Regions from separate parts of the Homo sapiens genome. Here region 2 is linked to region 1. Evidence: fine-mapped expression QTL. A gene starts in region 1. The other region holds a variant in brackets. All regions are shown on one strand. Distances are from middle to middle. Region 1 holds the start of CLEC4A (C-type lectin domain family 4 member A). Region 2 holds the start of ZNF705A (zinc finger protein 705A).

The links. PIP is the estimated chance that this variant, and not a neighbour inherited with it, causes the effect.
Region 2: its variant is fine-mapped to the expression of CLEC4A in whole blood (TOPMed, PIP 0.99).

Annotation. Positions count from the first base shown.
Region 1 is chr12:8,121,960-8,124,877 of GRCh38, forward strand. CLEC4A (C-type lectin domain family 4 member A) reads left to right here and starts at 1,658. Exons shown (of 6, transcript NM_016184.4): 1 at 1,658-2,001. The coding sequence starts at 1,920. RefSeq lists an enhancer at 1,528-1,577.
Region 2 is chr12:8,154,847-8,157,764 of GRCh38, forward strand. ZNF705A (zinc finger protein 705A) reads left to right here and starts at 2,169. Exons shown (of 6, transcript NM_001004328.3): 1 at 2,169-2,246. The variant A/G (reference allele first, on the strand shown) is at 1,793.

The sequences.
Region 1 (2,918 bases):
TCAGCACTTAAGCAGGATGAGGAGAGAGAGCATCCTTGCAGAGGGTAGACCTGGTGTGGTTTCAGAGACCAAGCATGATAAGGAGGGTGTCCATGTGGTGGGGTAGCCCAGTGAGGGAACTCAGATCCTAAGTAGGGTAAGATGGACATTATTGCTGGGGGATGGAGGACCTGCATGGAGTGTCAGAGCCCAAGCAGGATGAAGAAAGCTTCTATGCAGAGGGAGGACTTGGTGTGGGTTTCAGAAACTTAGCAGGATAAGGAGGTGGTCCATGTGGTAGGATAGCCCGGTGAGGAAATCAGACCCCTCCAGGGTGAGGAGGGCTTCCACCCATAGGGTGACCTTGTGTGGAGCATTAGAACCTAAGGGGGTCTAAGTGGTGACTAGGGGACCAGCATCAGGAATCAGAGTGCAAGCAGAGTGAGGAGGGCTTTCCTGCAGAGGAATGGCCTAGCACAGGGAGTCAGAGCCTTGGCAGGGTGAGGGGGATGTTTGTTGGGGGATGTTCATGGGGGTGGGGAGTGGGCTGGCCCTTTGCCGGCACTCTCAGAGTGAGGAGGGAGGGCATCCGCGCAGGGGATGGTGGCTTGGACTGGGGAGTCAGAGCCCAACTAGGAAGAGAGGGACATCTTAGCAGGTGGGAGATTGACGACATCCAGGAGATTGATCAAATAAGGAATAAGTGAAAGACAATGAAAGCAGGTTTCTTAGTGTCACAGAAAGGAGTTAGGAATGTGGGAAGGGAGAAAACTAGAATGAAACTTGTGGTGTTAGATTGGAATTAGAGGAATTAGTGTGAACTCATGGTGTTCAATATATTTAGATATAGAAATAATATAGAAATATAGACGTGTGTGTTTGTGTGTGTGTGCATGCATGTATGCATGTGTGTTATGCAGGAGAAGGAATCAGCTGGGGGAGATTAAAAGGAGGATCATTTGCGGAGAGTTGAGGGCAGAGAATCCAGGTGTGAGCTGGGAGCATGTCTATGGAGAGATTCCACATGAAGGATTTAATATTTGGAGTGTTTTCTTCTAGGCCTTTGGAAAAAGTCATATTTAGTACTTTGTTTAAGTTTATCCCCTTCTATACTGTGATTCTATATAATTCTCCTAACTGTTAAAAAATAGTCATATATATTGGAGGTGATGTGGCGATTAAAAGGTTAGGGAAGCATGGAATAAAGGCTGGCCTTCCCTCTCCTCCAACATCCAGTAAAGGGAGCTGCTTTCTGGAGATTCTAGCAAGATGAATGCAGACTTTTGATAGAGTTAGTTACCAACAAGGAAACACAGAGAGCATGGAGGAACAGCTTCAGAAGACATGGGGTTTAAACTTTGCCATCCCCACCATGCTACAGGAAACTAATTCGTGAAGGTGGGGAGGCTGATATGTGAGTTTTGTGTCAATGATACTCTTAGAATGTGGTACTAACAAGTTGCCTGATCAGTCAAAATTGATGAGATGAATGCAACATAAGTCTATGTTCAGGATGTTTGGTCAAAAGTAATTACATTTGTGTGTGGAAGCACAGAAATTGTATTTTTTACTGGTGAAAAACGCAGTTCTCCAGAAAGACTCTAAGTGCTTGGTTCTTCTTTTATTTTTCTTCCTCTTTCCGCAACCCTTTGAGTTCCCACTTTTATTGCATTTGCTTGCATTTGTTTCAAGGCTGTGATTCTCACTATACTGGTCCTGAGGAAAGGGCTTCTGTGAACTGCGGTTTTTAGTTTTTATTGTGGTTCTTAGTTCTCATGAGACCCCTCTTGAGGATATGTGCCTATCTGGTGCCTCTGCTCTCCACTAGTTGAGTGAAAGGAAGGAGGTAATTTACCACCATGTTTGGTTCCTGTTTATAAGATGTTTTAAGAAAGATCTGAAACAGATTTTCTGAAGAAAGCAGAAGCTCTCTTCCCATTATGACTTCGGAAATCACTTATGCTGAAGTGAGGTTCAAAAATGAATTCAAGTCCTCAGGCATCAACACAGCCTCTTCTGCAGGTAAAGATCATTTTCTAGGGGTCAGAGTGAATGACGAGGTGAAGGATGAGGAGAGGGTTTATGAATAAGGCATAGGTGTTTTCAGTTGCTGGTTGTCTGATTGAGTATGTCTGGGAAACACAAGAGTCCCAGAAGATTGAGTGGCCTGCAGATACGCATTACGGGGTGTACATTTGTATTGTGGAGAAGAAAAGATTTTGTGCCACTCTCTTCAGCCTCCACTCTGCTTACTGAAACAGAGGTGAGAGAAATCCACTCCAGTTCTGAGCTAAGGCGAGTGCTCTGATGCCCCTGTGTTTTCTGAGGCTGAGTGGGGCTGGGGTTAAGAGATTGAGTACAGCTTCTGAAACCATCAATCCAGATGCAGGGGGTCCTGATGAATTTGTGAGATTTGTTTTTTGATCAGTTAGAGGGAAAGAGTTTGGGTGGACAGTGGTGAGGGTATATTTGTTGGTAATGGATGGAAATGTAACAAAAGGCCTTTGCAAATGAAAGACTAGAAAGTCTACAAAGAAAGTCTCTTAAATCTCCAGGAAACTTTTTCTGAAATCAGAGAACCTATTGCGTGTTGCATCTCTGAGACAGACTCTGTTACGTTTGGGAGTAGATGCAAGGTGATTTGGGTGTCATGTGTGATATCTCAAGTATAGAGCAAAAGAGAGAAAAGAATGTATATAGAGTACAAGAAACTATGGGGGAAGGGGTCAGGACTATAGTTACGCTTTCTAAAATACCTCTGTGAAGGTGTGGAGAGCACTTAGGGAAATTTTTTCTCCTTAAAAACTTTATATAATTTCTTTATTACACAAGTATTAATGTTCATTGTAGAAAAAATTAACCAGAGGTACACAGATATTTGAATTATAATTACTCTTATCATCTAGAGAAAATCATAATTTGCAATTTAGTGAATATCC
Region 2 (2,918 bases), 33 kb after region 1:
TAAATCTAAGACTGATTTTTTTTTAAAGTAAACAAATGTACAAAGTGGAAGAATTGTAAAGTTAGATAATCTTAGGACTGAAATAGAGATTGAAACATGATAATAGGTTAGAAAATGATGAAATTAGGAAAATAAGTCACACTTAAGGGCAACTGAGAGGAGAAGAAAAACTAACAAATTTGGGAGTGGAAAAATTGAAGAAAATAGTAAAAATTGGGGAAAGTTAGGGTATCAAAGGGAGGATGCTCTTGAAGGAAAAAGATAATAGTAAGCTGAGACTGCTTTGTATTGCCTAAGTTTGTATTTGGCCATTTGATTACAGGATGTTTCTAGGATTCTTCTAGCTTAAATTTTCCCCAGTATTATTAATCTTAGGTTATTAGTCATCATTTTCTATACTCCAGACTCCTAAGTAACTGGTCTCCCAAGCCTTTTGACTGAGAAAAGTATAAACCTCTGCTTTTGGTCTTGCATATTTGATAGAAGGAGCTTGTAGACCCAAGAGAAGCCTCAGAGAGTATCCCTGTGGTTTCCACCCAACTTCTCAGTGGCTGTTTCATTGTAGTTGACTTTGTAAATTCTTACTTGAAATGGAACTATCTTTTCATCACTTATGATATAGCTTTTTAAACAAATGTCCCTCAAAATATTTCTCTTTTTCTTAACATGCCAATCTCTAATTTTTCTACCTTTAAAAAAAAACAGATTTCAAATATGTATTATAGACTTGATTATTTTTCTTCTTTGACCTTAAAAGTACTAAAATATGCTTTTTGATAATTGGCTCTCATTTTTAGTTTATTTGCCTGAGTCTAGCTGTATTTTCCCAATTTTGGTTCTGAACTCATCCATGCATGTGGTACTCACCAAACAAATTGCTACTACCAGTTCTAGGGTTGCCAGTGCTTAAATGGATCAAAAAGTCATACTCAAAGTAATTAGCATCTTCCATAATTATAATATCTAGACTAGTGTCTTTAATCTTAATGTGAGAGTTTTTTATACTTTTAGAGAAAAATGTGTTCAAAGAATAATTTCATCAAGGAATATGGCAGTGAGATATATCTTTTGTTTCCTGCACCACCAAATTAATATCTAAGGTTTGCTATTGTGACAGGCTTTAAAGATCTCCCATTTCTCTGCTTTATTATTTTTCTGATTTAAAAAATAGGTCTACTTTCTGATATGGTGATAAAAAACATATAATAAGAGTCTGTGGGAGAGTAACCTAAGGTGCTATCTTATGTAAATTGGAAACATGACGATTTAGATAAATAAAAAAATTTTTTGGATGTTAAAAAAAGAATATCACAGACTTTAGGATATTAGAAAGAAACAGAATTGTCACCCAAGTTAGTTCCAATTTCATTTTTCAAGATCAAGTGCTAGAGAGAATTGAGTTTAAGAATAAATCAGTAATCAAGGGGAAGTAGATAGACTAAGAAAAATGAATAGTAATTAAATTGGGTTGAGTCTTCACAAATCACAAAAAAATGAACTAAAGGAGTAAAGAGATGAAGTGGAAAACAAAGATATCAGTGCATGTTCTCGCCAAAAACATAAAGATAGTTTTTATTGCGAGATGTTTAAGATATATCAAAACATTAAAACCTTCCCTCGTTTAGTTAAAAATTACTCCTTATTTTAAAAAAATAGGTAATAGCAGTCAGAAAACTTCAGAAACTCTAAAAAGGCCCATGAGTTTTCTTCAGAAATAAAATACAGAGACACAGGCAGCCAGTGAGTCAACAAATTTTTATTGGGTAATTAGTATTTTCCTGGTATTAGGGGA[A/G]CAATGAGGCATGTAACAGAGTTCCTGCTCTGAACTGTAGCTTTTCCATTTTAATATGATGGACATTGAAAAGATATGTAAATCTATAAACAGATAAAATAAATATAAGCAAGCTCTGAGATAGGAAAGTTTTCTTTCTTGGATTGGATATGTAGAAGAGTGAGTATATTCAGGAGGATTGGAGAGAATTGACATTGAGTCAGAATCATGATGCCAGTTTTAATCTTAAAACACATGAGAGAGAATAAGGGTGACATTACGGTTAAGCTGCTCTGTGAGAGGGTTGTGTTCTGAAGGATTTTAAGAACATGAAACTCTTTAGCTTGACAGACATAATGAAGTCTAAGGGAACTAATCCACCTTCCTCTTTTCCAGTGACTCGTCAAAAATCTGCATAATGGAAAATTGCAAGGGGTTTTTCCTGATCTACTTTGAAATGCAATTCCGCTTAAAGGTATAACTTTGCCATGAGTAATCAGACTTCCTGTTCTAATGTCCACATTCCTATTCAGCTTGTTCTCTGTTATGAATTCCATGTAAGTCCTGCTGCTTCAACTGGAGACCCTAAATAAGCATTTCAAACTTAATAGGCTGAAATGACACTGTAGTCTGAATTCTAAGTAAATTATGAAATAGGCAAAAGAATCAGGAAGCAATCTAAACACTCACTTTATTACTGGTAAAGCTGTACTGAAACATGTGAATTGGATTTAAAGCCAAAAAGCATTTCCTACTATGCCCAAACCCAAGTCTAAAATAGAAACCCTTTTTGGGAGAATTGTATAGGCTGCCTGAGGGGGAAAAAAGAAGTCCTTCCTCTCACTTCCTTGAGAAAAGCAACACTTGAATACTGGCCTTTGATTAATTAATTCTCTCCAGTGGAAATAATGAGAACATTTGACCCTATATAAAGTGTTTTGGATATTGTGAGAAATGAAGAAATAGGAAACATGTTGGACTTGTTAATGGAAATTCCTTCTGGGTGAATTGAAGGAGTATAGGGAGAAGAGAAAATGGTTTCTATCATGCTCATTGCCTTCTTTTTGAATCAGTTGAAGTAAAATTTGTATACCACAAAATATATCCATTTAAGTAAACATTTCAATGAGTTTGACAAGTTTTTATA